2 separate regions of the Homo sapiens genome follow, and region 1 is linked to region 2. Evidence: fine-mapped QTL for protein levels in blood plasma. Region 2 holds a variant in brackets. A gene starts in the other region. All regions are shown on their reverse strands.

Region 1 (14,485 bases), not on the chromosome of region 2:
TAAGTTGAACTTAAATTGGATATAGAAAATTGAAATTGTAAAAGGAAAGCAAATCATTTTATATTAAATAGAAAAAGCTTCGTGGATGTAAGTTTTGAAGTCATCCTCAGGGAAAAAGTGTAGTTTGGAAAAGAGAAAGAATCAGACATTAAAAGCATCTGAGCAAAAGCTCTGTGGCAACATTGTTCAAAAGAGGAACTACCTGGCCAGAAACAGTGTAAGAAAATTAGATAAAGTTAATTAAGAACAAGAAAGAGAGCCTTGAAGCACTGTGAGAAACTGAAATTACTGCATGCCCAGTCTGTCCCTAGAAAAAAGCCTGGACTTTGAATTCAAGGAAACTTTAACTCTCTTTTGAGGAAGAGGCTAACATGGGGAACTTTAAGGTCTTCAACCAAAAATTGTAAGGACTAGTTCCTCCTGTTTAATGAGGTCATAAGTCAAAAGGTACTCCCTGTCACTTCAGGAGACAGATGTTACATGCCACACTATAAGAACTGTTTGTTTGCCTCTATGGAGTAAGTAAAAGGGAGCTCCTTGAATGTCCTTTTACCTTTTTTCTGCACAACTAAATCCTAGTCATCATTTTTCAAAAAGCAGCTTGTTTTATGATCTTCATGGAACCTCCTGAGATTACTCAGTCCTTTATCAGGAGAGTAAGAAAAAACAGAGAAATACAAAAATAAGAAAGGGAGACAAAGAAAAGTGAAAACTTGTTTCAAAGATCATTTTAGTGTATAGCACAGTAAGTGCCCAATATATTTAATAAATTTTTGTCAACTGAATTAATATACTTGGGTTTCAATAGAATAATACAAGACTAAACTTCTTCCTTCCTTCCTCCCTCCCTTCTTCCTTTCTTTTCTTTCTTCCCTCTCCCTCTCCCTCTTTCTTCCTCTTTCTCTCCTTCCCTCCTTCCTTCCCTCCCTTCCTTCCTTCCTTCTCTTTCCTCCTCCCCTCCCCTCCTCTCCTCTCTTCTTTTCTTTTTTCCTTTTCTTTCTTTTTTTGAGACAGGGTCTTGCTCTGTTGTCAGGCTAGGGCACAGTGGCACAATCATAGCTCCCTGCAGCTTCAAACTCCTGGGCTCAAGTGATCCTCCAGCTTAAACCTCCCAAGCAATTAAGACTATGGGCATGTGTCACCATGCCCAGCTTTTTTTTTTTTTTTTTTTTTTTTTTTGCTATGTTGCCCAGGCTAGCCTCAACCTCCTGGCCTCACATGATCCTCCTGCCTCAGCCACCCAAAGTGCTGGGATTATAGGCATGAGCCACTACACCTAGCCCCAAATTTCTTCAAGATTAGCTATACCAATGCACCCATGAAAGAAAGGAACCAATATTATTAAATGTCAAGCTTTGTATGGGACAGGCCTCTAAATATTTTACTTCATGAATCCTCTTCATTTTATGAGTGAAGAAACAGGCTTAAGGAGAGGTAACATAATGGTAGAATTATAAACTCAAGTCTGTTTGACTCCAAAAACCCTTGTTCTTTCCAGTGAACCATACTGCCACACAGTATATATTATATAAGAGTAGTTATCTAGTCAATTTGGGAGGCCGAGGCGGGCGGATCACCTGAGGTCAGGAGTTCAAGACCAGCCTGGCCAATATGGTGAAACACTGTCTCTATCAAAAATGCAAAATTTAGCTGGGTGTGGTGGTGCGTGCCTGTAATCCCAGCTACTCGGAAGGAAGAAGCAGGAGAACCACTTGAACTCGGGAGGTGGAGGTTGCAGTGAGCTGAGATCGCGCCACTGCACTCCAGCCTGGGCGACAGAGCGAGACTCTGTCTCAAAAAAAAAAAACAAAAACAATTATCTAGTCAAAAAATCAAATTAACTTTTAAGTATGCATTTGTGTATTTGTTTCCTAGGCTGATATAACAAAGTGCCACAAACTGAATAGCATAAAGCAGAAATGTATTGTCTCACAGTGCTAGAGGATGGTTTCAGAGGCTAGAAGTCCAAAATCAAGGTGTTGGCAAAGCCCTGTTCCCACTGGAGCCTCTAGGGGGAGGCTCCTGGCTTCTGGCTTCTGGTAGCCCTGGGCATTCCTTGGTTTGTGGAAACATAACTCCAATCTCTGCCTTTATCTGCCATGCGGTCTCTGCAATGTGTCTGTGTGTCTCTGTGTATTCATGCACCTGGTGTTCTCCCTAATTCTATTTTTTTTTCTTATAAGGATACCAGTTATAATGGAATAGGGGCCACCCTAATCCAGTATGACCTCATTTTAACTTGATTACATCTGCAAAGACCCTATTCCCAAACTAAGATAACATTCACAGGTGATTTAGACTTCAATATATCCTTTTAGGGGATACAAATCAACCTCGTACATTTTGTAACAGCACTAAGAACAATTTTTCCCGCAGGAAAAAATTTAAAACATAGTCCTTCCTCAAGGAACTTAAAATTTCGTTGAGAAAACGAAGTTCACAAACAATAAGCTATTAGTAAAAAATGAACAAAATAAGTTAATGAAGCTCAAACAATAAATGTAAATGGTGTATAAAGAAGGAAAAGCATGGCTGGGAGCAGTGGCTCACACCTGTAATCCCAGCACTTTGGGAGGCCCAGGTGGGTGGATCACCTGAGGTTAGGAGTTCGAGACCAGCCTGGCCAATGTGGTAAAACCCCATCTTTACTAAAAATACAAAAAAAAAAAAAAAAATTAGCCGGCCATGGTGGTGGGTGCCTATAATCCCAGCTACTTGGGAGGCTGAGGCTAGAGAATCACTTGAACCTGGGAGGCGGAGGTTGCAGTAAGCTGAGATCGCGCCATTGCACTCCAACCTGGGCGACAAGAGCAAAACTCCATCTCAAAAAAAAAAAAAAAGAAAAAGAAAAGAAGGAAAAGCATATTCCAGGTCAGAAGTCCCAGGGGGCTTCATAGTGGACATGGATCAGAAGCTGGATAAAAGATTGGTAGAATAGGCCAGGTGTGGTGGCTCATGCCTGTAATCCCAGCACTTTGGGAGGTCAAGGTGGACGGTTCACAAGGTCAGGAGTTCGAGACCAGCTTGGCCAACATGGTGAAACCCCATCTCTATTAAAAATACAAAAAAATTTAGCCAGGCCTGGTGGTGCGTGCCTGTAATCCCAGCTACTCAGGAGGCTGAGGCAGGAGAGTCGCTTAAACCCGGGAGGCGGAGGTTGCAATGAGCCAAGATTGCGTCACTGTACTGCAGCCTGGGCAACAGAGCAAGACTCCATCTCAAAAAAAAAAAAAAAAAAGGCCAGGTGCGGTGGCTCACACCTGTAATCCCAACACTTTGGGAGGCCAAGGCGGGTGGATCATGAGGTCAGGAGATCAAGATGGAGACCATCCTGACTAACATGGTGAAACCCCTTCTCTACTCAAAATACAAAAAATTTAGCTGGGCCTGGTGGCGGGTGCCTGTAGTCCTAGCTACTCAGGAGGCTGAGGCAGGAGAATGGTGTGAACCCGGGAGGCGGAGCTTGCAGTGAGCCAAGATCACACCACTGCACTCCAGCCTGGGCGACAGAGCAAGACTCTGCCTCAATTAAAAAAAAAAAAACAAAAAAAAATTGGTATAATAAATATACAGAAAAGAGGCAAGAAACTAAGAGTCAAACAGCAGGAACAAAGGCACAGAAACAGGAATTAACATGACACAGAAAGGCAGGTGGGAAGGCAAAAGTAAGCAAAACAATCAGCCTGAAATACAATTTGGGTCAGGAGATAGTGGGAGACAAAGGTAGCTAGAGCCATTCTATGGAAGACCTTAAAGATGAGACAGCAGAATTCTAACCTGATGTAGTCAGTGAGTCATACAGCCACTCTGAAAATAAGGTTTGAGGAAGTTCAGGCTGGCTTCACAGGAGAACTGACAAAAAGAAATGGAGACCAAGGAAAGGGGACTAGTTAGGGATCTGCCAAGTTCTCTATTCTGCAGTCAGAATGACGTTTTTTTTAATTCGATCAAGTAACTCCTCTGCATGTTGAAGCACTCAATATGATACACTGAAGGAATCAAAGACAACACCAAATTTCTAACCTCAGTCTTAAATAACAGTTGCATGGGCATCATTTATAGGAACCAAGAAGGTAGGAAAGGGATATCGTTTGGAAGAGTTATCAGTTTTGATTGGTTTATGAATAATTTGAGGTAGAAATTACAGTTAAAAGTTGGCCAGATTATGGCTGGTGAGGCAGAGGCAAAGGCAGGAATTATCATGTGCAGCATATTAGAACTGTAGAAGGTTGATACTCAAATTACAGAAGAACAGGCAAGCTCTAGGGAGTCAGCTAAGACACCTATGGGAGGAGCCAACTAAGCCTAACTGGAAATGAACCAGGAAACTGAAAACAAGCAAATAACAAAAACAGTCAGACATTCAGGAGCAAAGGGTGAGGCAGGTAGGCTAGGGCTGGGACCAGATCTTGGGCAGGAACACAGACAGAGTCCCATCCTGGAAAAAAGGCAGAAAAGAAATAAGGAAGTAGCTGTAGAATAACAATGTAGTAGGCACTGTTTTAAGAATTTTAATCAATTTACTCAAACCTCTCAAGAATAAGAGAGACTACTATTATATTCCAAAATTTTCCCCCAAAAAGCATTTTTTTGTAATACGCTTCTCATCCTCCTTTCTGACATATGACCTTTTCCCCATTCAACTAAAGGCATAGGCTGCCTCAAGGAAAATTATGGTTGTTAAAGGGAAAAAAGGTCATTTACTATTCAGCTTCAAACCTCAAAACTGATGTGTGTGTATGTGTGTGTATGTGTGTAATAAAACGACAATTTTGAGGACTTTTTCTACATTCTAACAGCTCCTTTTATTTATCAAGAGCTTGACGTGCCACAGCTGGACCACATAGCTTTAGTATGAGCTACAGTTTGCAAGAATCCAAGTTTAGGAGCCAAGCACAGTGGTGCACACCTGTAGTTTCAGCTACTCAGAAGGCTTAAACAGGAGGACCTTCACTTGAGACCAGGAGTTCCTGGCTGTGGTGTGCTATGATCACACCTATGAATAGCTACTGCATTCTAGCCTGGGCAATGTAGTAAGACCCCATCTCTTTAAAAGACAAAGAGAGAGAGAATAATAATCAAAGTTAAGAGACATGCCCTGTACTGAGGAAAGAGAAATAAGGACTTTTCTGATAAAAGAGGAAATAAAAGGGTGTCTGTGTGTGTGTGTGTGTGTGTGTGTGTGTGTATGTGTGGTGGATCTCCCTTGTTCTAAGATGAACTGTGTTTCCCCCAAATTCACATGTTGAAGTCCCAGCCTCCAGGATCTCAGAATGTAACTGTATTTGGAGACAAGGTCTTTAAAGTGCTTAAGTTACAGTGGGTCTAATCCAATATGACTCGTATCCTTTTAAGAAGAGGAAAAGACACCAAGGATGTGTGCATACAGAGGGACTATCATGTCACAATAAAGCAGCAAGAAGGTTGCCATCTGCAAGCCAAGGAGAGAAGTTCAGAGAAAAACAACCCTGCTGGCACCTTGGTCTTAGACTTCCAACCTTCAAAAATGTGAGAAAATAAATTTCTGCTGTTTAAGCCACCTAGTCTGTGGCATTTTGTTATGGCAGCCCTAGCAAACTAATACACCCCTCCAGGCTGAAACCCTTTAGAGGGAAGTTTAAAAAATCAGAAAGTTTGAGGGAATCTCAGAGAAGTGGGGGTTGTTTCTCACTTCTTTGGACAAGACAGGAGCAACTTAAAGCTCCCTTAAAGAATTTCCATGTTCAAGGCCGGATGTGGTGGGTCATGCCTGTAATCCAGCACTTTGGGAGGCCAAGGTGGGCAGATCACTTGAGGTCAGGAGTTAAAGACCAGCCTGGCCAACATGGTGAAACCCTGTCTCTACTAAAAAATCAAAAATTAGCCAGGCATGGTGGCATGCACCTGTAGTCTCAGCTACTCAGGAGGATGAGGCAGGAGAATCACTTCAGCCCGGCGGGTGGAGGTTGAAGTGAGCTGAGACTGCGCCACTGCGCTCCAGCCTGGGTGACAGAGTGAGGCTCCATCTCAGAAAAAAAAAAAAAAAGGAATTTATGTGTTTAGTAACCCAGGTAACAGACTGGAAGTGACAGAATGGCATAATAATGTGAAAGAAACCAAATATCACCTTTCTGATTCCTCTGGAGAAAGGATTCCTTGATTTCCAAAGATAACCTTATAGTAGCAACGAGCATATCTGCCAAGCAGACCTTGGTTTCTTTTTTTTTTTTTGTGAGACAGAGTCTTACTCTGTTGCCCAGGCTGGAGTGCAGTGGCACAATCTTGGCTCACTGCAACCTCTGCTTCCCAGTTCAAACGATACTCCTCCCAAGTAGCTGGGATTACAGGCGCCCCCCACCATGCCCGGTTAATTTTTGTTTTTTTTTGTGGTGGTGGTGTTTTTTTTTTTTTTTTTGAGATGGAGTCTCGCTGTCCTCCAGGCTGGAGTGCAATGGCGTGATCTCAGCTCACTGCAACCTCTGCCTGCCGGGTTCAAGCAATTCTCCTGCCTCAGCCTCCCAAGTAGCTGGGACTACAGGTGCGCACCACCATACCCGACTAATTTTTTGTATTTTTAGTAGAGACGGAGTTTCACCATGCTAGCCAGGCTGGTCTCGAACTCCTGACCTTGTGATCTGCCCACCTCGGCCTCCCAAAGTGCTGGGATTACAGGCGTGAGCCACCGTGTCTGGCCCAATTTTTGTATTTTTAAGTAGAGATGGGGTTTCACCATGTTAGTCAGGGTGGTCTTGAACTCCTGACCTCAAGAAATCCACTAGCCTCAGCCTCCCAAAGTGTTGGGACTACAGGCGTGAGCCACCGTGCCCAGCTGCAGACCTTGGTTTCTAATGCCATTCTCCAATAAAAGGAACCAAGGTTCCTTGGAGAAATGGTTGACTCTAGGGCTGGAGTAGGAAACGTATAGATAGGCCTAGAGCATCTAAAAGTACCAAAAAGTAAGAAAGGGGTATGTCACAATGAAACTGGGTGTAGGGTATGTGGAAATTCTCTGTACTTTCTGGCACTATAAAAGTAAGAAGGGGATACAGGAGTTAATGAAGGAGCTCTCCAACAGCCAGAGCCAGAACAATTTGAGCAACAAAAAAATAAACTAATATTGGATTATAAGCCAAAGTACAAAATAAATATCCATGAGTCCATACCGATACAAGTAAATTATTAAGTTAATAAATGAGGGAGAAGAGACAAATCTCCTTTGCAGAAGAATTCCATATAGTTTATGTTGATACTCTGTCCTTAAGGAGGAAAAACATAACTACCCACTCATTAAGTGAGGGTGAACATACTTTCTTCCAAAGTGTACAGTATGGAAACAGATTTTTTTTAAGAGTACATTATAGTGGAGAAACCTGACAAGCACTATCTCACGCCAGGTGATAGAGGTTAACATAAGTAGTGATAAATCATTTTGAAAAACATACCCATGTTATGATGTGTTGAGATTGGTACTTTACTTCTGTGGTCTTTGTCCGAAAACCCACAACTCCAGTCTAATCCTGAGAAAAGACTCAGACAATTCCCAATTGAGGGACATTCTATATAAAACACCTAATCAGTAATCCTTAAAATTGTCAAGATTATCAAAAACAAGAAAAGGTCTAAAAAACAAGGAAAGGCTGAAAAGAAGCTTCAGAAGACATAATGTCTAAATGTAACGTAACTCTGGATGAGATCCTGGAATTAAAAAAGGACAGCAGGCGAAAACTGAAGAAATCTGAATAAAGTACGGACTTTCATAATAAGATATCAATACTGGTTCATTAATTGTGACAAATGCATCATACTTATGTTAAGATGTTAATAATAGGGAAGACTGGGTGTGGGGTATATAAAAACTCCCTGTACTATCTTTGCAATAATTTTCCAGATCTAAAACTGTTAAGTGGCCAGGTATGGTAGCTCACACCTGGCACTTTAGAAGGCCAAGGCAGGAGGATCACTTGTTTAGTTTTCCAGATCTAATTTTCCAATAATTTTCCAGATCTAAAACTGTTAAGTGGCCAAGTATGGTGGCTCACACCCAGCACTTTAGAAGGCCAAGGCAGGAGGATCACTTCAGGCCAGGAACTGGAGACCAGCCTGGACAAGATAATAAGACCCTCATCTCTACCAAAAAATAAAAAATTAGACCATCATGGTGGCATGCACCTATAGTCCCAGCTACTTGGGAGGCCGAGGTGGGAGGATCGCTTGAGCCCAGGAGTTTGAGGCTGTAGTAAACTATGATCGCACCACTGCTCTCCAGCCTGGGTGACAGAGCAAGACCCTGTCTCAAAACAAACAAACAACAATAACAATAAAAAAAACCCTGAAAAACTGTTAAGTTTAAAATACAGAGACCAAGACTACCCTTTCTACTAAGCAGCTCAGAGAGTCCTCATTAACCCCAAGAACAGACATTCACAAGCAGCCCAAGAAAGTTGTTATAGCCAGCTCAAAATACAGAAGTGGCACACCAAGTGCTGTGGCACACACCTAGAATCCCAGCACTTTGTGAGCCCAAGGCAAGATCACTTGGAGCCAGGAGTTTGAAAGCAGCCTGGGCAACATAGCAACACCCTATCTCTACAAAACTAAAAAAAGAAAAAACTTTTAAAAATATACAGAACTAGCCGGGTGCGGTGGCTCACGCCTGTAATCTCAGCACTTTGGGAGGCCAAGGCTGGTGGATCACGAGGTCAGGAGATCGAGACCATCTTGGCTAACATGGTGAAACCCCATCTCTACTAAAAATACAAAAAATTAGCCGGGCATGGAGGTGGGCGCCTGTAGTCCCAGCTACTCAGGAGGCTGAAGCAGAGAATGGCGTGAACCCAGGAGGCGGAGCTTGCAGTGAGCCGAGATCACACCACTGTACTCCAGCCTGCTTAACCGAGCGAGACTCTGTCTAAAAAAAAAAAAAAATATATATATATATATATGTATGTATACACATATACACACACAGAACTGACATTCAATAAGAGATACAGTCTTGTGAGCCAGCTGCATAAAATATTAGCCAAACACTTAAAAGTAGTTAAGATACCCAGGGCAATATTTCCCAAACTAGTGGGCTTTGCTATATTATTCTGTGCCATAATAGGTAGGCCATGAAAATAGTAACCTGTGATCAAATAAACTAAACAAGACTGAGTTAAACAAAATTGAATAGCCTTCTTTATTAATGGATTTCTCAGAGCTTTTATATTCCAGCAGGCATTATGAATTCCAAGAGGAGGATACACTAACATTTCCCTCCAAAAAAGGTTTTCATTTTTTTCTCCTCACCACCTAAGAAATATTACAAGAAGGGTATTCTGTTTAACACTACTTTGGGGAATACTGCTCTTATGGGAGAGCAAAGGCTCAATAACAGAGTCCCTTACTAGGTGACTGGAAAGAAAAAATAAATCCAGCAAAGAATATAGTGAAGAAGATAAGACTGGAGAGTCCAGTATAACAGAAGCAAGAAAGAAAATAGTTTCCAAATAGCTAGAGACAATCAACAGGATCAAACTACTGGGAGGTCAAATACAGTAAGAATAAAAATATTCTTTGGTTTTGACTAGGAAGACTGCCATTTGTGACCTTCAAGAGAATAGTTTCAAAAAAGGGGAGGAAAGAAAGATGGCAGACATTTTAAGATTAGGATGGTTATGAAAAAATAGGTAGATGGAACATTTGTAGACCATCAATAATTTGACTTTAGCAATGAAAGTGAAAAAACAAATGGGTTGGTTGGGAGAAAGGAATATACAGATTTTTTTTCCTTTACTGAGAACAGGGGACACCCACATACTGTTGAAGGTAAAAAGTGAAACAAACTGAAAGAGACAGTTCAGTAGAGCTGGGCAAGGTGGTGCACACCTGCAGTCCCAGCTACTCAGAGGCTGAAGCAGGAGGATCACTTGAGCTCAGGATTTCAATGCTATAGTGCATCATGCCTGTGTAACAGCTACTGCACTCCAGCCTGGGCAACACAATGAGACCCTGTCTCTTTAAAAAAAAAAAAAAAAAAAGAGGCTGGGCATGGTGGCTCACACCTGTAATCCCAGCACTTTGGGAGGCTGAGGCGGGCGGATCACCTGAGGTTGGTAGTTCAAGACCAGCCTGACCAACATTGAGAAACCCCTTCTCTACTAAAAATACAAAATTAGCCAGGCGTGGTGGTGCATGCCTGTAATCCCAGCTACTCAGGAGGCTGAAGCAGGAGAATTGCTTGAACCCCGGGGGGGCGGAGGTTGCAGTGAGCTGAGATCACGCCATTGCACTCCTGCCTGGGCAACAAAAACAAAACTCCGTCTCAAAAAACAACAACAACAACAACAACGACAACAACAAAAAGTCCAATGGATGAAAGAATGGAATCAAGAGTATTAATTACAACAAGAGACTTTCCTTTGAGACCAGAGAGAAGAATGTGAATTGTAATGCTCAACCATGCCAAGTAGGAAGACCTTACTTTAATACTCCAAACTTTCATGGATTTCTACCTACTCTGCCCGAGAGTTTTTCAGTCTTTAGAGTTAAGCATGCAGCGCACATATAAATGTACTGATTCCTTGACCCTATCATAGCATGTCTATGTTATGGTGAAGAGGAGGGGGTTATAGGGAAGCACTTAGCTGAGGGCCTTAATCTTCATGAAATAAGAAAGCCAGGTAGAGGCTGTCAACAGGAAAGTTAGAAGCTCACAGACAGTTTAATTCATAATGACTTACCCTTAAGTGATTTTGATATGCAAAGTAAAACTTGTAATTATAATGGGCATTTACACACAAAAATGTGAAGATTACCAAAGAAGTGTATAGAAAGGCATCTACTATCCTGCCCAGAAATTTTCATAACTCTACTATACCTACAGAAGTTGCTAAGTCATAAACTATTAATATAGTTACCAATGAGCTAATGAAAACAAGGATTATTTAGTAGCAAGTATGATTACAGTTCAATTTTAAACTTTTTATATTTAAAACTTTGTATAGTTTTCCATCTGCATAAAACACCAACCCTAATAGCAACTTAGCTATACAAAATTTCATTCTATTTTCTTTCAATGAAGACACTGACATGACATTCCACTGCTTAAAATTTATTTTCAGATTCTAATCTTTTGGCTGATTTCATTAACAATTCAAATTGAGTAGATAATGATGGATCAACTATGTCCAAGACACAAGTGTGTCTCACATATAGCTCGAGGGCCCATCTATCATAACATTTTGATCACAAAAAGGCAGTCATAGCTGATTATTTAGTTATTCAATACATCACCCTATAGAGATTTTAAAAGTCACACAGCTTAAAAAATATATGATGACTACCATAAGTAGAGGAGTCAGAGGCGGCTTCGTTCTTTAAATAACGAAATTAATATTGATCAGTGTGCACGGAATAAAAATGAGACAATAACCACACCAAACCTGGCAGTCGCCAGATTTGTGTGTCTTTGAAGGTAAGGGGGCCACACAGGCCAGATGATTACTACTGCCAACTCACCAGCTGAGCTTAGAGAATAGGCAGCATCTGCACACAGTCCACTCTTGAGAACCAGAATTTACAGTCATTTTTTTCTGGCAGGGACCAGAGAACGTGGCACTGATAAACTGGGAAAAGTCTGACAGAAACAGGGTTGTTGGGGGTGAAAGGAGCCTTCAGGACTGAAATACTGGAAGGCATAAGACAACAGCTAGCGGATTAACATCCCGCCCCAGACCCCGGGGAGAAAAGAAACCATGGGGTTTGAAGAGAAAAGGGTCGTCCTTACCTTGTCATCCTCGCATCTCTTCCCGAGGCCCTCTCTGGCCTGCAGCCGGCTGCTGAGGCGGCCGTAGTCGGCCTCCTTCTGGTCGATCTGTTTCTTGTGCGTGTCCACCAACAGCAAGAGGTCCGAATTGCGCTTTTCCAGCCGCCCGCGGGCCACTTCGGTGCGCTGGACCTGGCCCTGCAGCTCGGCCACCTCCTCCTGAAGCAGGACGTGGCGGGAGGAGATGCTCCAGTAGTTGAAGGCGAGGACGACGATCACCACCAGCAGCACCACCAGCACGAGAGAGGGCAGGCGGCCAGCCCGCCGGTTGGCCCCGAAACCCACCATGGGGCCAAATCGGGCTGTACCCTAGGGGCCTCGCCGCAGACACCTGCAGGCAGAAGCCCAGGCCTCGGCTGGAGTTGCCCGGCGGACACGGCCCCAGGGCCGGCCGAGGGAGGAGGCGGGCTTACCGGTCGGCTGCGAGCCGGAGAAGGGGGCGGGGCCGCAAGCCGCAGGTCCCTCCCCGCCCCCCTCCTCAAATCAGGCCAAAACGCGTTCCGGAGGCTTTGAACCCGACCCTGCACCTGCCCAAGGGAACCGGGAGAACCCAGCTGCCAGCGTCCCCCAAACCCAACACCTCACGGTTGGGAGGCGGGGAAAAAAACCGGAAAGGGGCGGATGTACCCTGGCCCCACCCACTAGCTGGGGCCGGGTCGTCTAGGGGACCATTTCCGAGTTTCCGTCGACACCCCTCTTGTCGCGAGAACGTTGCTTCCTCTCGTCTCTCTCTCTCTCTCTCTCTCTCTCTCTCTCTCTCTCTCTCTCTCTCTCTCTCTCTCGCTCTCTCGCTCTCTCGCTCTCTCGCTCTCTCGCTCTCTCTCGCTCGCTCTCTTTCTCTCTCTCTCTCTCTCTCTCTCTCTCTCTCTCTCTCTCTCTCTCGCTCTCTCTCTCTCTCGCTCGCTCGCTCTCTTTCTCTCTCCCCGCCCAGAGTTTTCTCTGTCGCGTAGGGTGTTGTGTTAATTTTGGCGGTCTCAGATGTCTCAGGTACCTGGGTCGGAGTCCTTTCTGTTGTTATCTACTGGATTCCCTTGATTCAAGGCCTAGGGAGTTCCTGCCCTACACTGGCCCTCGCGAAAATATTTGTCTTTGAGGACGTCTGGGGCTGCGACCGCGGAATAGAAAAAAATAGTAGGTGAGCTGCTGCCAAAAAGGAGCGACTAGAAAGGTTTTGTACTTGCTTCTGTAGAAGGGGAATTTCTCTTTTGTGCTAATGATGTGGAAAGAAAAAACAAAAAGACTGTAAAATAGCGATGCCCTAAACATAATGGAGAAAAGCGGGAGAAACCAAGCTTTAGGACTGAAAGGGGTGGTGCCAGTCTCGTTTCCTAGGTTACTGCTTTCACGAACCGAAAGAATTTCAGAATGTGGCGAGCTCCAATTTTTAAACGCACTGCTGCTTTTGCCTCAGCTGGGCTTCCAAACAGAAAGTCCAGAAGCTGCCCTCGATGAATCGTAACTAATGCACTGTTACTGCCAGCGAACACATTCCGGGTTAGAAATAATAGCTCTAACAAATTGTTTTGCGCGCCTAGTCTCATATTATCTTCTCAACAACGCAATTTTACAGATGAAGAATCCAAGACACATAGATGTTTGGGAACTTTCTCTTATCTGGTTTTAAATAGGCTTGAATCCAGATCATTGAACTCTAAACACCAGTGCTGTCTGCATATAGCAGATTGTTTATATGTTAAGTGTGAATTTCAGTAGTGCAAAAAAAAAAACAAAACCTGCCTCTTTTTTTTTTTTGCATAATTATTTTGTCCGTGCATAGAGAAATAAAAAGGTACTGGCTCTAACCTGTTTAAGGAGAGGATGGGGTTGCCTTATTTTTCAGACCTCAGGTTGAAGAACTTCCATGAGTATAAAACCTCAAGAAGGAAAAACCTTGGTATTTTTTATTCGAATCAGAGTGATATGATTTTGAGGCAGGAAGACTTGTCATCTTAATTATTCTGTGCTTCCTATCCTCAAAAATTATTTCCCTAAGTCCCGTAGTAGCGTAGAATTATTGCATCTTCAAAGAACAATGATTACTCTCTCAGATGCAGTACAGAAAACCACCACCAAAATTATTAATACTTGGTTCACATCAGAAGTGAGCTCTGGCTTCATAAGATCTAACAAATCCTCTCCACTCTCAGATGACAAGCCGACTTTGGCAAAAGGAAGCAAAGCAAAAATGAGAAATCATTAACTATAAAGAGCCTTTCCATCTCTGCTTTCCTCAACTCATATTGGCCTTGCTCTGCTCAACCAGCAATCGAAAATTATTCTAGGCCGGGCGCGGTGGCTCACCCCTGTAGCCTCAGCTACTCGGGAGGCTGAGGCAGGAGAATCACTTGAATCGGTGAGGCAGAGGTTGCAGTGAGCCGAGATCGTGCCATTGCACCCCACCTTGGGCAACAGAGTGAGACTCCGTCTGAAGAGAAAAAAAAATTATTCTATAAAGTTATGTTAACTACTTAAGATTTACTGTTCCCACGAGTGTTTTCATTTTTACATAGGCAAATCTAAAAGTATAAATATTGTACAAAACACATACACATACATTTCCTCAACAGATGTTTAATAGAACTATTGGGTACCATTATTCCATTTTACAGGTGCAGAGGTAACTTGCCGAAAGTCATTTATGTAGTAAATGGCCGAGATGACCAATCCTCTTTCCACTCTTCCCCAGAGGATTTTTTT
Region 2 (15,193 bases):
GAAAGAAAAGAACAATCTCAGAGGGGAGGAGACGGCCGCCTGCAAAGGGCTATAGGGTAGACAGAGAAAAAAACTCATTTTGTGTAGTTCACAACAGCCAAAAAAATGGAAACAACCCAAACGCCTGTCACCTGATGAAGGGATTAACAAAATGTGGTCTAGCAATACAACAAAATATCACTTAGCAAAATGAAGGAGTGAAGTACTGATCCCGCGACAACCTGGATGGACCTTGAGACATCACGCTAAGTGAAAGCAGACAGTCACCGAAGACCACACGTTGTGTGACTCCATTCACACGAAATGTCCAGACCAGGCAAATCCACGGGGACAGAGAGAACGTTAGTGATTGCCAAGGACTGTGGGGGAGGGAATGGGAAATGATCACTAACAGGTTTCTTTAAGGGGCAATGAAAATGTTCTGGAACAGAATGACTGGACAGCTCCACGACTGTGCTAAAAACCACTGAATGGGCCGGGCGCGGTGGCTCACGCCTGCAATCCCAGCACTTTGGGAGGCCAAGGTGGGCGGATCACCAGGTCAGGAGATCAAGACCATCCTGGCCAACATGGTGAAACTCTGTCTCTACTAAAAATACAAAAATTAGCTGGGCATGGTGGCACACACTTGTAATCCCAGCTACTTGGGAGGCTGAGGCAGGAGAATTGCTTGAACCCGGGAGGCGGAGGTTGCAGTGAGCCGAGATCGTGCCACTGCACTCCACACTCCAGCCTGGTGACAGAGTGAGTCTCTGTCTCAAAAACAAAAACAAAACAAAACAAAAAAAAACCACTGAACGTACGCTTTCATTAAAAGGGCAAGCAAACTTTCTACTTTGATAAAGCTGTTTTTTTTTTGAAGGTATCCATTAGTATCTTCATTTAATATTCACAGCTCTATGAGGCAGCTATTTTACAGATAAGAAAACTGAGGCTCAACAAAATCACGTGAGTCAATGATGGAGGCAGCGTGAGAACCCAGCTCACCGTCCAGTCTAAACCCCCACTCCTCATCACTATGCTGGTTATACTGACTCCTAATGAGTGGAAAGGGGAGATTTCAGCTGGACACAAGAAAGGACAGTCTAACAATTAGAACAGTGCCCTCCCACTCACCGGCAGTTCGGGCAGAGACTGACGACCACTCACAGGGGCCAGAGAAGGGGGTGCTGTGTCTGCTAACCCCTTCACTGCCTTGCAGCTGAACACACTATATACTCTCTATTCTAAATCTCAGACACCTAAGGTTTGCCCAATCTCTATGATATTTAAGCTATTCTTAGTTCTATATACTTAAGAAACTGTAGTTTTCCTATAATTTTTAAAAACTTTACAAGTCCTCCACTGTCCAAATTAACATTATTTAGATGCTGAGATGTATTTCAATCATTGAACAAAGAATGGGAACTAGAACATGAGCCATGGAAACGTGCAGTCAGCTGGTATACTTACTGTGAAGTTCATTCCCTTGATGGGGAGCTTCAGGTGTTCAAATCCCACTATCACTGTATACTGAGTGTAGTTCAGGTAGCCAAGGTGAGCCACAATAATCTCCGCACATTTCTGCAAATACACAGAAAGATTTGCCTTTAAAGAAAGCGAGACTCACGCTCCCGCCAAATAACCCATGAAGTAACACGTTTCAACAGCAGATGGGCAGAACTCATTGTCTCCAGGGAACTCGCCAAAAGCCCAGAGAAAGTCAGATGCCAGCCAAACACAGTTCCTAGAAAGAATGAACCAAATGGGTATTTTTGGAAACATAATATATGATTTACACCAATTAGAATCTTTCTACTTTGGATGACTGAAAATAAGTCACCGTGTAAGAAAGTTAACAGTGCAACGCAAGCCTGACATTTCCATAAATATATAACACTAGAGCACAGGGGAAACGTAAGCTAAGACACGTCAATGCAGATGCCGCGGCCTAATTTGTCCTCCCTGGCCCAATTTTGCGATTGTTATAATAATGAACAGAGTGAATTACACATTCTTCTTTCTCTCCTTTTAACCTGTCACTCTCTACATGGAGCCCTCTTTCCTCTCCATCCTGCTCTCTCCACCCTCCACTCCGAGTCAAAGCAAAGGCTGTGTGCACAGCACCAAGTGCAGATGTGAGGATACGTGTGCTCCACTGTTGACAAGAGCCCTTCCTTTTGTCCTTTAGAATTAAAAGCCAGGTCTCTTCTGCTTTGTTATCCCCTTCCGGAGTGGCAGGGAGGACAAACCCTCATGCAGGGATACAGAGGTGCACCCACCAGCCATGCACACAGAGCCAGCCACTCCTCCCCAGCAAGCTCTGCCCCGGCCCTGCCTTTCGGAATGTCACTCTCCACCATCCTGCTGCTGCCCAGAGCAAACGGGTGGTTCTCTGGCTTTCTAATAGGGCATCGCTCCAATGACTGGTCAAGCCTCGAATGTCTGAGGTCAGGTAAGAAAACAGGTGTGGGTTTTACACAGCAGGCTTAAAAAAGACAAGAAGGTGGCTGGGCGTGGTGGCTCACGCCTGTAATCCCAGCACTTTGGGAGGCCAAGGCAGGCGGATCACTTGAGGCTAGTTCAAGACCAGCTTGGCCAACATAGTGAAACCCCATCTCCACTAAAAGTACCAAAAATCAGCCGGGTGTGGTGGCAGGCGCCTGTAATCCCAGCTACTCAGGAGGCTGAGGCAGGAGAATCCCTTGAACCTGGGAGGTGGAGGTTGCAGTGGGCCAAGATCACGCCATTGCACTCCAGCCTGGGCAACAAGAGCAAAGCTCCGTCTCAAAAACAAACAAACAAAAACAAACAAAAAGACAAGAGGGCAACTGTCAGGGAGGCGGACAAGGAGTGGGGTTAACACAGTGGGGTGCTGACCTAAGGCAAGGGGGAGAAAGCAGAGAGGAGGGGAGTGTGCAGGGGGCTGAAGGCAGCACCAAGGTCACCATCTCAACTCACCAAACACTTCAGCCCACTAGCAGCCCTGGGTCTGCACTGAAGCCCACAGTGCTCCGCAGGGAGGGGCTGCCCTGCAAAGGGGCTAAAAGCCCTCTGGCTGGCCACCCGCCCACCTCCCATTCTCCTATGCCGGAAGCACAGGTCATCTGCTATTTTCATCACATTGGAAAGGGAAGCCAAGGCTTCCTTTCCACCTGATCAGCTCTCATTGCAATCTGCTGCCTGCCCTCTGGGCTTTAAGTGTGTGGTCCACCTTCTCGACAAAACTAAATTCACCTTTCCCCTCTGGCAGTCGGGTCACAGGATGATGCGCAAAGGCAGGGGTGGCTAAGGACTATACAGGAAGGGATGGCTTAAAATCTGTAAATACATTTTTGCTGGGTAGACAAACATCTCTTGCGAGTTTAAGAATTTGTCTCACTTTTCAGGGATGTTTTAATTAACAAAAGAGCTGTATCTCAGGCTGCATATACTTACGAGTTTAAAAAAACTACACCAGCGGTTCCGGCATCCCAAGTTCAAACCACGGTTCTGCTGCTGACAATGATGTACCTCTGAAAATCACGTGATGGTACCTCAGCTTTCCCACCTGCAAGGCGTGGAAAGCCTTGCTACCTAAGTCAGACAATGGCTTTTCTTTACAGTAGAAAAAAAAAAAAAAAGGAAGCCAGGCACGGTGGTGCACACCTGTCATCCTAGCTACTTGGGAGGCTGAAGCAGGAGGATTGCTTGAGCCCAGGAGTTCAAAGCCAGCCTGGGCAACATAGCAAGACTGTGTGTTTAAAAAAAAAAAAAGTAATATAAGAGGGTGGTAAATATCTCTGTAATGTAAAAATTCCATGTTTTTTAAAGCCAGGGCAATGCTCCTTGCAGGGTTAGAGACCTGCGTAGACAAGGAACAGAAGCAAGATATTCCCAAGGGGTAACACAGTGTAAAATGAGGTAGGGCCAACAACGGAAGCGGGAAGAAACCATGAAGATGCGCTGAAGGGCCATTCTCAAGATGCACAGCACGGCGGGCACATCCAAGAAGGAACAGTGCAGACCAGCCAGTACCCTGGCAGCCTGGCCCTGCTTGAAGCAAAGGCTTTAGGTAGGGCAACCCACTTGTCCCGATTTTAAAACAAAGTCCTGTGTGCTGAGCAACCACTCAGTGCAAGCAAACCAGGACGATGGGTCTCAACAGCTCCAAATAAGCAACCCCTGACTAATGGTCCATTGAGCCTCAATCTGAGAGGTGGGTGTCATCAAGCTGTCCAGGTGGGAGTGGCCACCAGGCGCTCGGATAGGAAGAGAGCAGATTCTTGGGCCATGGTCCTGTCTGACACTCACACCTGTTATCCCTTCAGCAGTACTGATCGCACCCCTCCCGCACACAGGCCTCACTGGGGGACGCAGGGATGCCTCAGGCTGCACACATAAGGCACACTCACACGTTATTCACCTTGATCTTTACTGCTTTCCTAAGGCAGGCAGGGAAGGCTTGATCCCAACTTTATAGATGGGGAAAATACACTTTGGAAGCTGACTCATCCCCTGGAAGCAGAATGAGAGGCCAGTCCCACGTGATCCTCCCACCCTACCCTCCCAAAGTGCTGGGATTACAGGCATGAGCCACTGCGCCTAGCCCTTGAATTCTTTCTTGCTAGGAAAAACAGTGCCAGTATATGTATCACTAGTAACTAGGCAGTATCCATGGTGGTTAAGGCCACAAGCTTCAGAATAAAAGGGCACAGGTTTAAATCCTGGGCCCTCCACTTAATATCTGCGTTACCTTGGGCAATGGTTTAGACCTCTCTAAGCCTCAGTTTCTTCTTCTACAAAATAGGCTCTAACAGTAGTTTCTACTTCATGGACTTGCCATGAGGACTGAATGAGACAATGAGTGGACGGTACTTGGCATGACACCCAGCAGAGAAACTACTTGCCATCTGGCTTCTGACATTACTTTCCTAATCCTATAAGAAAATGCACTGCCCTGTTTTGATGCTCTCCAAGTTCTCCACGCTGCCAGTAACCTGTTGTGCCTGAGGTGGACTCCTCGCTCTAGCAGGGATCTGGTTCTGATTCTTTGGACTCTGAACAGAATACAGTGCCAATGAAATCAAGCGTGAGGGCTCATTCCCCACTGTGGACCCAGGTTTCCTATCCCTTAGCCACACTGTGCTCTGAAGTAGATGCTCAAAAAGGTAGGCCCCTGACGCCCAAGAGGCCCAGGTACTTGGCTTCACACAGACGGATTAGGGCATGCATCACTCGGCTGGGAACAACCCAAAGCCTCAGTCAAGAGTGACCATGGAAAATTAGTCAGCCCTGGTAGCATACGCTTGCAGTCCCAGTTACTTGGGAAGTTAAGGCAGGAGAATTGCTTGAGCCCAGGAGTTTGAGGCTGCAGTGAGCTGTGATTGTGCCACTGCACTCCAGCCTGGTTGACAGAGCAAAAACCTGTCTCTAAACAAAATAAAACAAAAAAACCCAGTGACCACAGCCTGTGGCAGACGTTCGTATGAGGAGGCAGCCCATAACATTCATTAGGGACACACTGGGCAGAAGGTCACACACACAGTAAAAACAAGTACCGTGTATGCTCAGGGTGGCTAGCAGTATATGTGTGTGCATGCATATGTGCGTACACGTGTGTTTACGGATGTGTGAATGCATGTGTACGTTTATAAGAATTTTTAAGGGTATCCAACTGTAAAAATAAGTAAGTTTTTTCATGCCATCTTTGGTATGACTCCATTTTTTTCACTTAAGAACAATTTCTCGAAGCCTCTTACCATGCTATCTTTTAGACTGGAAAGTGGCTCTGTAATTAAACGTGTACACAGCCTGAGGACTGACTGTGGGGCTCACCCCACACACTCACCCCTGCACATGTGAGGGTCCTTGTCCGGTTGTGAACTTTGTTATGAATGTACATCGTGGTTCCATCTTGAGCTACACCATCGAC[T/G]TTAACAGTCATGGGAAAGCTTGTCTTAATAGAAGTTTCTACAAAAGAAAAAAATTCAGTGTTAGAGACCATGCCAGGCACATCACACCTACAAAGGTGCCTTCCTGGCTCTGTAATGACCTTGGAGCCAGGAAAACGCTTAAGGTCCTTAGGCCACATTGGCCTCAGCACATTTGAAAATCTCTTAATTGCCCAGCAAAGTAAAAGCCTTTCCATTAGATTCCAACCCAGCACCCAGGGGGTCTATGTCAAAACCTGCACTTCAGACCCATCAGTTTCACTTCACACACAAAAAAAGGGTAAATATTTCATGGCTAATGAACTTATATTTTTAATTTCTCACATACATTTTTAACTTACCAAATTCTATACCAAAAATAGAAATAGATTTCTTATTTCTTCTGATTATAGGTTTTTCTCATTATATTCTCATTTTAAAAAAATCATAAAATATAAAGATAGCATTAAATACTGAGAATTTCACCTAGAGATAATCGTAATTCATATTTCATGTCTATCCTTCCAGACCATTTTCTAGACAAATACGTAGTAATATGAATTTTTTGCTTTCTAAAATGTTACAAAGAGGGGATAATTTTTTCGTAATATATATTTGTTTCACTTCATTTACTGTGGTCATGGGGTTATCTTTTCAAATTCTTTCTCAACCAGAGTGTCTCATGTGAGGCACAGAACAGAAAAGGATTTGGTTATCTTCTCAATTCTCCCTAGGATGATACAAAACTAGTGCCACTGTAGACTGACAGAAGCTAATTCATCATAAACAATGGATGCATTAGGGGAGGGTTTCTCAGCCTCTGCATCACTGACATTTTGGGCCAGATAATTCCTTGTTGTGAAAGTGGGGGAGGTGTCGGCACCTCTGCCCTCTACCCACTAGATGCCTGGAGCACTCCCTCCTCCTCTCCGTGTGTGACGAAATTGTCTCAAGACATTGGCAAGTGTCCCTGGGGGCCAGAACCATTATTTTAGGGCATCAGGTCTTAATTCTCTCCCAGATCCTCACTGAAAAAGGCTGGCAGCTGTAGCGCCGACACCATGCAGCCACTGAGCGGAGCTAACCAGGACTCCACGGAGGACGTCTATCTATCGCAACTTTCTCTCCCACTGGAAGACATTTAAGGGGTTTCCAATTTGTTGCTATGATAAATAATAATGGACATCCTTATACATCTATCTTTGAGCACTTGCTTGTCTGAATATTCTGAAGTCAACATCTAAAATACGATGTTTCTTCGTATAATGAAAAATCATTCCAAAATGTCAAGCTCCATACCTTTTGATTGATCCAACTCAACAACACATGTCAGCCATAGTTGCTGATTGTATGTAGACAGTGGATTTGAAAGTATTTGAATTGGCTTTAGCTGAAGAAAAAAAAACAAAGTAATCCATGTGACCTTTTCATTGAGTCTACCAAATACCTCATCGTTTTAACACACAAAGTTTACTTTTAGCAATAAAGGCTTCAGTGTTAGCTTTGAAACAGAAATATGTGAGGTTTTCCTTCTTTTTTTTATTTTGATGGAGTCTCACTCTGTCGCCTAGGCTAGAGTGCAGTGGCGCGATCTCGGCTCACTACAAGCTCTGCCTCCTGGGTTCACGCCATTCTCCTGCCTCAGCCTCCCGAGTAGCTGGGACTACAGGCGCCCGCCACCACGTCCAGCTAATTTTTTGTATTTCTAGTACAGACGGAGTTTCACCGTGTTAGCCAGGATGGTCTCGATCTCCTGACCTGGTGATCCGCCCACCTCGGCCTCCTAAAGCGCTAGGTTACAGGCATTAGCCACTGCGCCCGGCCATGAGGTTTTCCTTTCAAGAACATAAGTGACATTTTGCCTTTCAGAAGAAGAAACGACTAACTTCCAGCAGCAATTCACGTCTGTCTCTCACAGAAATCTCTAAGCAGACATTTTTCACACTGGGACCCTTGGGGACAATACACTTACTTAAATATCAAGAAAAAAACCATCTTGGAAAAAGAATAAAATGAGCAGAATGATGAGATACATACTAAGACAATAAAGAATACCAAAGGAATGCTTTCATATTTACAAGATAATATATCTCAAGAATTATTATTTTTTGAGACGGGAGTCTAGCTCTGTCACCCAGGCTGGAGAGCAGGGGCGTGATCTCGGCTCACTGCAACCTCTGCCTCCCAGGTTCAAGTGATTCTCCTGCCTCAGCCTCCCAAATAGCTGGGATTACAGGCACCTGCCACCACACCCAGCTAATTTTTCTATTTCTAGTAGAGATGGAGTTTCACCGTGTTGGCCAGACTGGTCTTGAAGTCCTGATCTCATGATCAGCCCACCTCGGCCTCCCAAAGTGCTGGGATTACAAGCATGAGCCACTGCGCCCGGCCAAGAATTATTTCTGAAGTATCCATATGCCAGGCAAATTGCTCTTTGACGTCTGCTATTTTTAGCCTTCTGAAAGAAAATCTTAACACCCCTGGGGAGAAAAATTAGAGGTGATGATGTTGCCAGTGATTCTTCTGCAGTATCTTTTGAAAGACGTAATACTGGTGTTTAATAGCAGCAGGCCACAGAGAGAGTTACTGAAGCAGCCCACCCATGGTTCCAAAGAAAAGCATTATCTGAATGCATCGTCTTTGGAGGTGAATGGGTTTTTTCTTTTTTTTTCTTTTTTAAGACAGGGTCGTGCTCTGTCACCCAGGGCTGGAGTGTAGTGGTGCAATCATGGCTTACCGCAGCATCAACCTCTCAGGATCAAGAGATCCTCCCACCTCAGCCTCCCAAGTAGCTGGGACTACAGGTATGCCCCACCACACCCAGCTTATTTTTAAATTTGTTGTAGAGACACAGTCTCCCTATGCTGCCCAGGCTAGTCTCAAGTGAATGTGTTTTTGTGTCTTAATACTTCTGTCAGGGTCTCAATAAAACTCCCTAGGACTAAAGATTTGCCTAAAAACCATCAAGGCAGGAAATCTCTCCAGGAATGAGCTACTGTCTTAGTGAAGTGAGGATGGTCTCTTGGAAGCAAGTCAGTTCAGTGGAATGGCTGCTGTGTTCAGTGTCAAAGAGAGACTCACACCCTGAGAGACAGAAACTGTAAAAGATGAACTACTATCAGGAAAGCCCACGGCGGCACCTCCTCAAATCAGATCATCACGCCAACAGTGAAAGAAAATAAAGCAATGCAAAGGAAATGTGAAAACAGGCTATGCAGAGGGCCCTTTCAAACTAGCAGTAGCAAAGAGAAAAATCAAATGGTGTAAGTTTTAGTACTTTTTCTTCTTTTGACTTTTTGCAAAATTATAAGGGTAGAAAACTAGCAGGGAAGTGTGAGAACAGAGAGAAGGGGGATTTGGGGTCATACAATCAGATTTAAACTATATATATCATGGTGCCTCGAAGATACAGGGCAACTGTGTTCAGTTTATAGGTAAAGTTATGTTTCACACACAAAAAAAGGTTTAGTTGTCTGGGCTCTCACAGGTTAGTATTTATTCAAGGAAACCAAAATTCTCCAATTGAAAGAAGCTCTGTTTTTCTCTAAAGGTGGTAAAAAAGTTAAGGCTTTTTTTTTTTTTTTTTTTTTGAGACAGAGTCTCACTCTGTCACCCAGGCTGGATGCATTGGCACGATCTTGGCTGACGGCAAGCTCCCCCGCCCGGGTTCACACCATTCTCCTGCTTCAGCCTCCCGAGTAGCTGGGACTACAGGCGCCCCCCCACCACGCCCAGCTAATTTTTTTGTATTTTCAGTAGAGATGGGGTTTCACCATGTTAGCCAGGATGGTCTCAATCTCTTGACCTCGTGATCAGCTCACCTCAGCTTCCCAAAGTGCTGGGATTACAGGCATGAGCCACCTCACCTGGCCAAGTTAAGGTGTATTTTTTAAAGGATTTTTCATTTAAATTGAGTTCACACAAGGAATACAAAGTAATCATTAGAAAGAAATGTACCATTAGAAATCTGACAGAGGCCAATTCTTAACCTGGGCAAATATAAGATGAGACACCTAAGTGGTATCATTATTAAAAATTACAATCTGATAGGACTTACAGAGGCAAGGAATCAGGATGAGTTAGCCACTCTTTGGAAATGAACAACTGCTCCCTAAGAGGTAACACCACCATCTTCCTAAGTACTGAGGTGTTTATTACAGCAGAAATGGTGACTTTAGCAAACAAGAACCCAGATGCCAGCAGCTGACAATGGAAGAAGAAATGTGTTGCCTGAGAAGCCGCAAGGCAAGGGAAGGCTACCTTAAAGACTCTAAGCGGAACCATTTCTCAGTGACCTGAGGTTTATAATGCACCCCACCACCCAGCTGCCACTCAGACCCAGTCTTACCTTTTTGCTATTATTTAGTGAAAAATTAGCCGCAGAAGTCTGGATCACTTTAGGTCCTAAAGTGTAACAGAAAAGGACAAAAGCAGATTATAGCAATATTGATAATTTAGTATTTTTTTCCAAATTCCAAGAAAGACTCACACATTACACGGAGATGACCTTAATTCACCTGGTTTTTCTTTAGAGATTATACAATGTGTAAGTAGAAGATATAAACACACAAACACAGACACAGAATATCCACTCTGCTGTGCTTCACGACTTCCCAACACAAGTCAACCAGCATGACTGGCATACAACACAGAGGGTTTCCACAGGAAACACCCTGCTAGGCTCTCAATGAGAGCACTCTCTACATGCATGGGCCCAAGAAGGCATTAACTATAGAGACTCTGTCTTATATATTCTGTAAAATATAAAGATTTCTTCCAAAACCTAAGACACACTTATCTGCTCATCCAATTAATCCCGTCTTCCAAAAATACTTATTAAGGGCTATAAACATAATATATGCTAATATAAGCAGGAAAGCATAAAGTTTTAACTAATAGGTATACGAACCTCATAGTTTTTTTTCCAATTTTTACTGTGACAAAATATACATAAGATTTGCCATCTTAACCATTTTTTTTCCTACAGATCCAAGAACTTGACATCTTAACTATTTTTTTTCTTTTTGTTCTTGTTGCCCAGGCTGGAGTGCAATAGCGCAGTCTCAGCTCACCACCACCTCCACCTCCCAGGTTCAAGCACTTCTCCTGCCTCAGCCTCCCGAGTAACTGGGATTACAGGCATGCGCCACCACGCCCGGCTAATTTTTTATTTTTAGTAGAGACAGGGTTTCACCATGTTGGTCAGGCTGGTCTCGAACTCCTGACCTCAGGAGATCCGCCCACCTCAGCCTCCCAAAGTGCCGGGATTACAGGCGTGAGCCACTGCGCCATGCCCGTCTTAACCATTTTTAAGCATACAGTTCAGTGGTAGTAAATACGTTCATACTGTGCAACCATCACTGCCATCCATCTCCACAATTCAAAACTGAAACACTGTGCCTATCAAACAATTCCCCATTCCCTTCCCCCAGCCCCTGGCTGCCACCACTCTACTTTCTGTCTTGATGATTTTAACTACTCTAAGTACCCCATATAAGTGAATCTTATAGTATTTATCTTTTTTCCAATGGCTTATTTTACTTAGTATAATGTCCTCAAAATTCATCCATATTATAGCTTCTGTATGAATTTCCTTATTTTTGTTTTTTGTTTGTTTGTTTTTTGAGACAGCGTTTCACTCTTGTTGCCCAGGCTGGACTGCAATGGCAGGATCTCGGCTCACTGCAACCTCTGCCTCCCAGGTTCAAGCGATTCTCCTGCCTCAGCCTCCCAAGTAGCTGGGATTACAGGTGCTTACCACCATGCTCGGCTAATTTTTGCATTTTAGTAGAGATGGGGTTTCATCATGTTGGCCAGGCTGGTCTTGAACTCCTGACCTTGTGATCCACACACCTCTCCCTCCCAAAGTGCTGGGATTACAGGCGTGAGCCACTGCGCCCGGCCGAACTTCCTTACTTTTTAAGGCTAAATATTCCATTGTATGTGTACACCACATTTCATTCCTCTGTCCATTTATCTGTCAATGGATACTGTGGTTGATTCCACAGTTTGTTATTGTGAATAATGCTGCTATGAACATGGGTGTACAAATATCAAGACCCTGCTTTTTTTTTTTTTAATTTTGAGACGGAGTTTCATTGTTGTTGCCCAGGCTGGAGTACAATAGCGTGATCTCGGCTCACTGCAACCTCCGCCTCCTGGGTTCAAGTGTTTCTCCTGCCTCAGCCTCCCAAGTAGCTGGGATTACAGGCATGCACCACCACACCTCGCTAATTTTTGTATTTTTAGTAGAGACGGGGTTTCACCATGTTGGTTAGGCTGGAATCGAACTTCTAACCTCAGGTGATTCACCCGCCTCAGCCTCCCAAAGTGCTGGGATTACAGGCATGAGCCACCATGCCCGGCCAAGACCCTGCTTTCAAATCTCTTGAGTATATACACGGAAGTGAAATTGCTGGATCATGTGGTGCTATTTGCATGGCATAACCTTTTCCATCCTTCTACTTCAACCTATTTGTGTCTTTGGATCTAGAGTGAGTCTCCTGTAGACAGTATATAGTTGGAGTATGGTGTTTTAAAATCCATTCTGCCAACCTCTGCTTTTTAATTGGAGAGTTTATTTACATTTATAGTAATTACTGCTCAGGAGAAACTTGCTTCTGTCATTTTGCTTTCTATATGCCTTCGTTCTCTGTATGTCTCATAGCCTTTTTGTACCTCTTTTAATATCCTAAAGTTATAACACTCTAAATTTATACCAGCTTAACATCAATATGTAAAAATTCTGCACCTATAACAGCTCCATCCCCGCCTCTTTCAACTGCTGTCACAATTGTGACAAAAGCCTATCTTTATATATTGTGTCCAAAAACATAAAATAAGTTTTAATGCATTAGTCTCTTAAACTATGTAGAAAACAAAATGTGGAGTTACAAACCAAAGTTATAATAATACTAGATTTTACAGTAATAGTTGGCTTTTTAAAAATGTGTCTTTCAAATAACGTTGAAAACAAAAAAAATGGAGTTATACACCATTGTTACAATAATATGAGCTTTTATAATTACCCAAGTATTTACCTTTACTGAAATCATATGGCTTCAAGTTACTGTCTAGTGTCCTTTCATTTCAACCTGCAGGACTCACTTCAGCAATACTTGCAGGGCAGGTCTAATAGTAATAACTTCCTCAAATTTTATCTGGGAATGTCTTAACTTCTCCCTCAGTTTTGCTACACGTAGGATTCTTGACTGACAGTTTTGTTTTGTTCTTTGTTTTTTTGTCTTTTTTTTGAGATGGAGTTTCGCTCTTGTTGCCCAGGCTGGAGTGCAATGGCGCGATCTCAGCTCACCACAACCTCCACCTCCCGGGTTCAAGAGATTCTCCTGCCTCAGCCTCCCAAGTAGCTAGGATTACAGGCATGTGCCACCACGCCTGGCTAATTTTGTATTTTTAGTAGAAATGGGGTTTCTCCACCTTGGTCAGGCTGGTCTTGAACTCCCGACCTCAGGTGATCCACCCGCCTCAGCCTCCCAAAGTACTGGGATTACAGGGGTGAGCCACTGCACCCGGCCAACAGTTTTCTTTTAGAACTTTGAATGTATCAGCCCACTGACTTCTGGTCTCCAAAGTTTCTGATGAGGTATCTGCTGACAAACTTACTGAGGATCCCTTGTATGTGATGAGTCACTCTCTTACTGCTTTCAAGATTCTGTCTTTGGCTTTCTACAGTTTGATTATATCTTGGTGTGGGTCTCTTTCAGTTCATCCTACTTTGAGTTTGTTGAGCTTCTTGGATGTTTATATTCACATTCACCAAATATGGGAAGTTTTCAGTCATCACCGCTTGAAATATTCTCTGACCCATTCTCTATCTCTTCTCCTTCTCAGACTCCCAGAGTGTGTATGTTGGTCCATTTGATAGTGTCCCAAAGGTCCCTCAGTCTCTGTTCATTTTTCTTCTGTTTTTCTGTTCCTCAGGCTCAAAAATTTCCACTGTCCTATCTTCAGATTCACTGATTCTTTCCTCTACCTGTTCAAATCTGCCTTTGAATCACTCTAGCGTACTTTTCATCTCCAGAATTTCTTTTTGGTTTCCTTTTAGGTTTTCTATCTTTTTATTCATACATTGTTTTCTTGACTGTCTCCATGTCTCTTCCTTTAGTTGCCTCAGCACCTTTAAGACAGCTGTTTTAAAGTCTCTGCCTAACAGATCTGTCATATGGTCTTACTCAGAGACAGATTCTGACACTTCATTTTTTTCCCTTCGATGGGTCATACTTCATTGTTTGCCTTGTGACTTTTTTTTTTTTTTTTTTTTTGAGATGGAGTCTTGCTCTATTGCCCAGGCTGGAGTGCAGTGGCGCAATCTCGGCTCACTGCAAGCTCTACCTCCCGGGTTCACACCATTCTCCTGCCTCAGCCTCCCAAGTAGCTGGGGCTACAGGTGCCCACCACCATGCCTGGCTAATTTTTTGTATTTTTAGCAGAGATGGGGTTTCACCATGTTAGCCAGGATGGTCTCGATCTCCTGACGTCGTGATCCACCCACCTCGGCCTCCCAAAGTGCTGGGATTACAGGCATGAGCCACCACGCCCGGCCGCCTTGTGACCTTTTGTTTAAAAGTGGACACTTAAATCTAATAATGTACCTCTGGAAACCAGACTCTCCCCTTCCTCAGAGTTTGCTGTTATTCATTTTTGAATTTTTGTTTTTGTTGTTGTTATAGACTGTCTCTGTGCAAAGGATCAGCCTGAGGTTTAAACTTAAGGTTTTCTCTGAGCCTGTGCCTTCCTCTGGGCAGGTGTGGTGACTTTCTAAATTTCCCTGTATTAGCAGTTTTGAATGTCCTGGTCTTCTATGTCTGACTCCCGAGAAAGGAAAAAGGCAAAAACGAAGGGGTAAAAAAGTGCCAGCCCTTTAAATCCCCTGGAAGTAACGTTAGCCAGCGGGGGAGGGGCTTGCAACAATTGAGGGAGGTACAACAACAGCAGCCATTCTTACTTCGTCAAACTTCTGCAATCAGAAGCAGCATCAGTGATCAGAGCACAGATGCCTACTATCTGGAGGACAGGGTCCTTTTTGCCCACCTTGGTTTCTATAAGCGCTAGGAACACACATTTAGCCGCCTGCTATAGGCCTGCAGTGGAAGATGGGTACCTGCTACTGTGCTAAGAGCTGTGCTGACCAAAATTAGCCACCATCTAATGTACAAGCATTCCCTTCGAAGTGGCAAGCCTTCAACAGACTCTGGAGTTCCAGAACAGTTACACCATACAGATTCTGCCACTGCAGCTGTTGGCTAAGTAGAAGACATCGATTCCTACTCCACCATCTTCCC

Alleles and levels. Positions count from the first base shown, and alleles are read on the strand shown. Strength reflects both the effect of a copy and how common the allele is.
For the plasma level of the protein whose gene starts at base 12,387 in region 1, T is the low allele of the variant in region 2 and G is the other (weak association).

Evidence for each region. PIP is the posterior inclusion probability: the model's chance that the variant is causal. Protein levels are from antibody-based Olink assays in UK Biobank. Linkage for the fine-mapping came from a reference panel and not from the study's own genotypes, which makes the PIPs less certain.
Region 1: GOLM2 starts here. The variant in region 2 is fine-mapped to the plasma level of the GOLM2 protein (UK Biobank, PIP above 0.99).

The regions. Positions count from the first base shown.
Region 1 is chr15:44,286,621-44,301,105 of GRCh38, reverse strand. It overlaps GOLM2 (golgi membrane protein 2), which reads right to left and starts at 12,387. Exons shown (of 10, transcript NM_138423.4): 1 at 11,750-12,387. The coding sequence starts at 12,076. RefSeq lists silencers at 341-635, 4,761-5,055, 12,111-12,470 and enhancers at 12,281-12,575, 12,971-13,040, 12,422-13,328.
Region 2 is chr6:158,576,042-158,591,234 of GRCh38, reverse strand. TMEM181 (transmembrane protein 181) reads right to left here. Exons shown (of 17, transcript NM_001376852.1): 3 at 10,240-10,295; 4 at 7,191-7,281; 5 at 5,810-5,931; 6 at 1,453-1,563. Among named protein-coding and RNA genes, the nearest start is that of TMEM181, 24 kb to the right of the region's middle. RefSeq lists a silencer at 11,935-12,147. The variant T/G (reference allele first, on the strand shown) is at 5,894.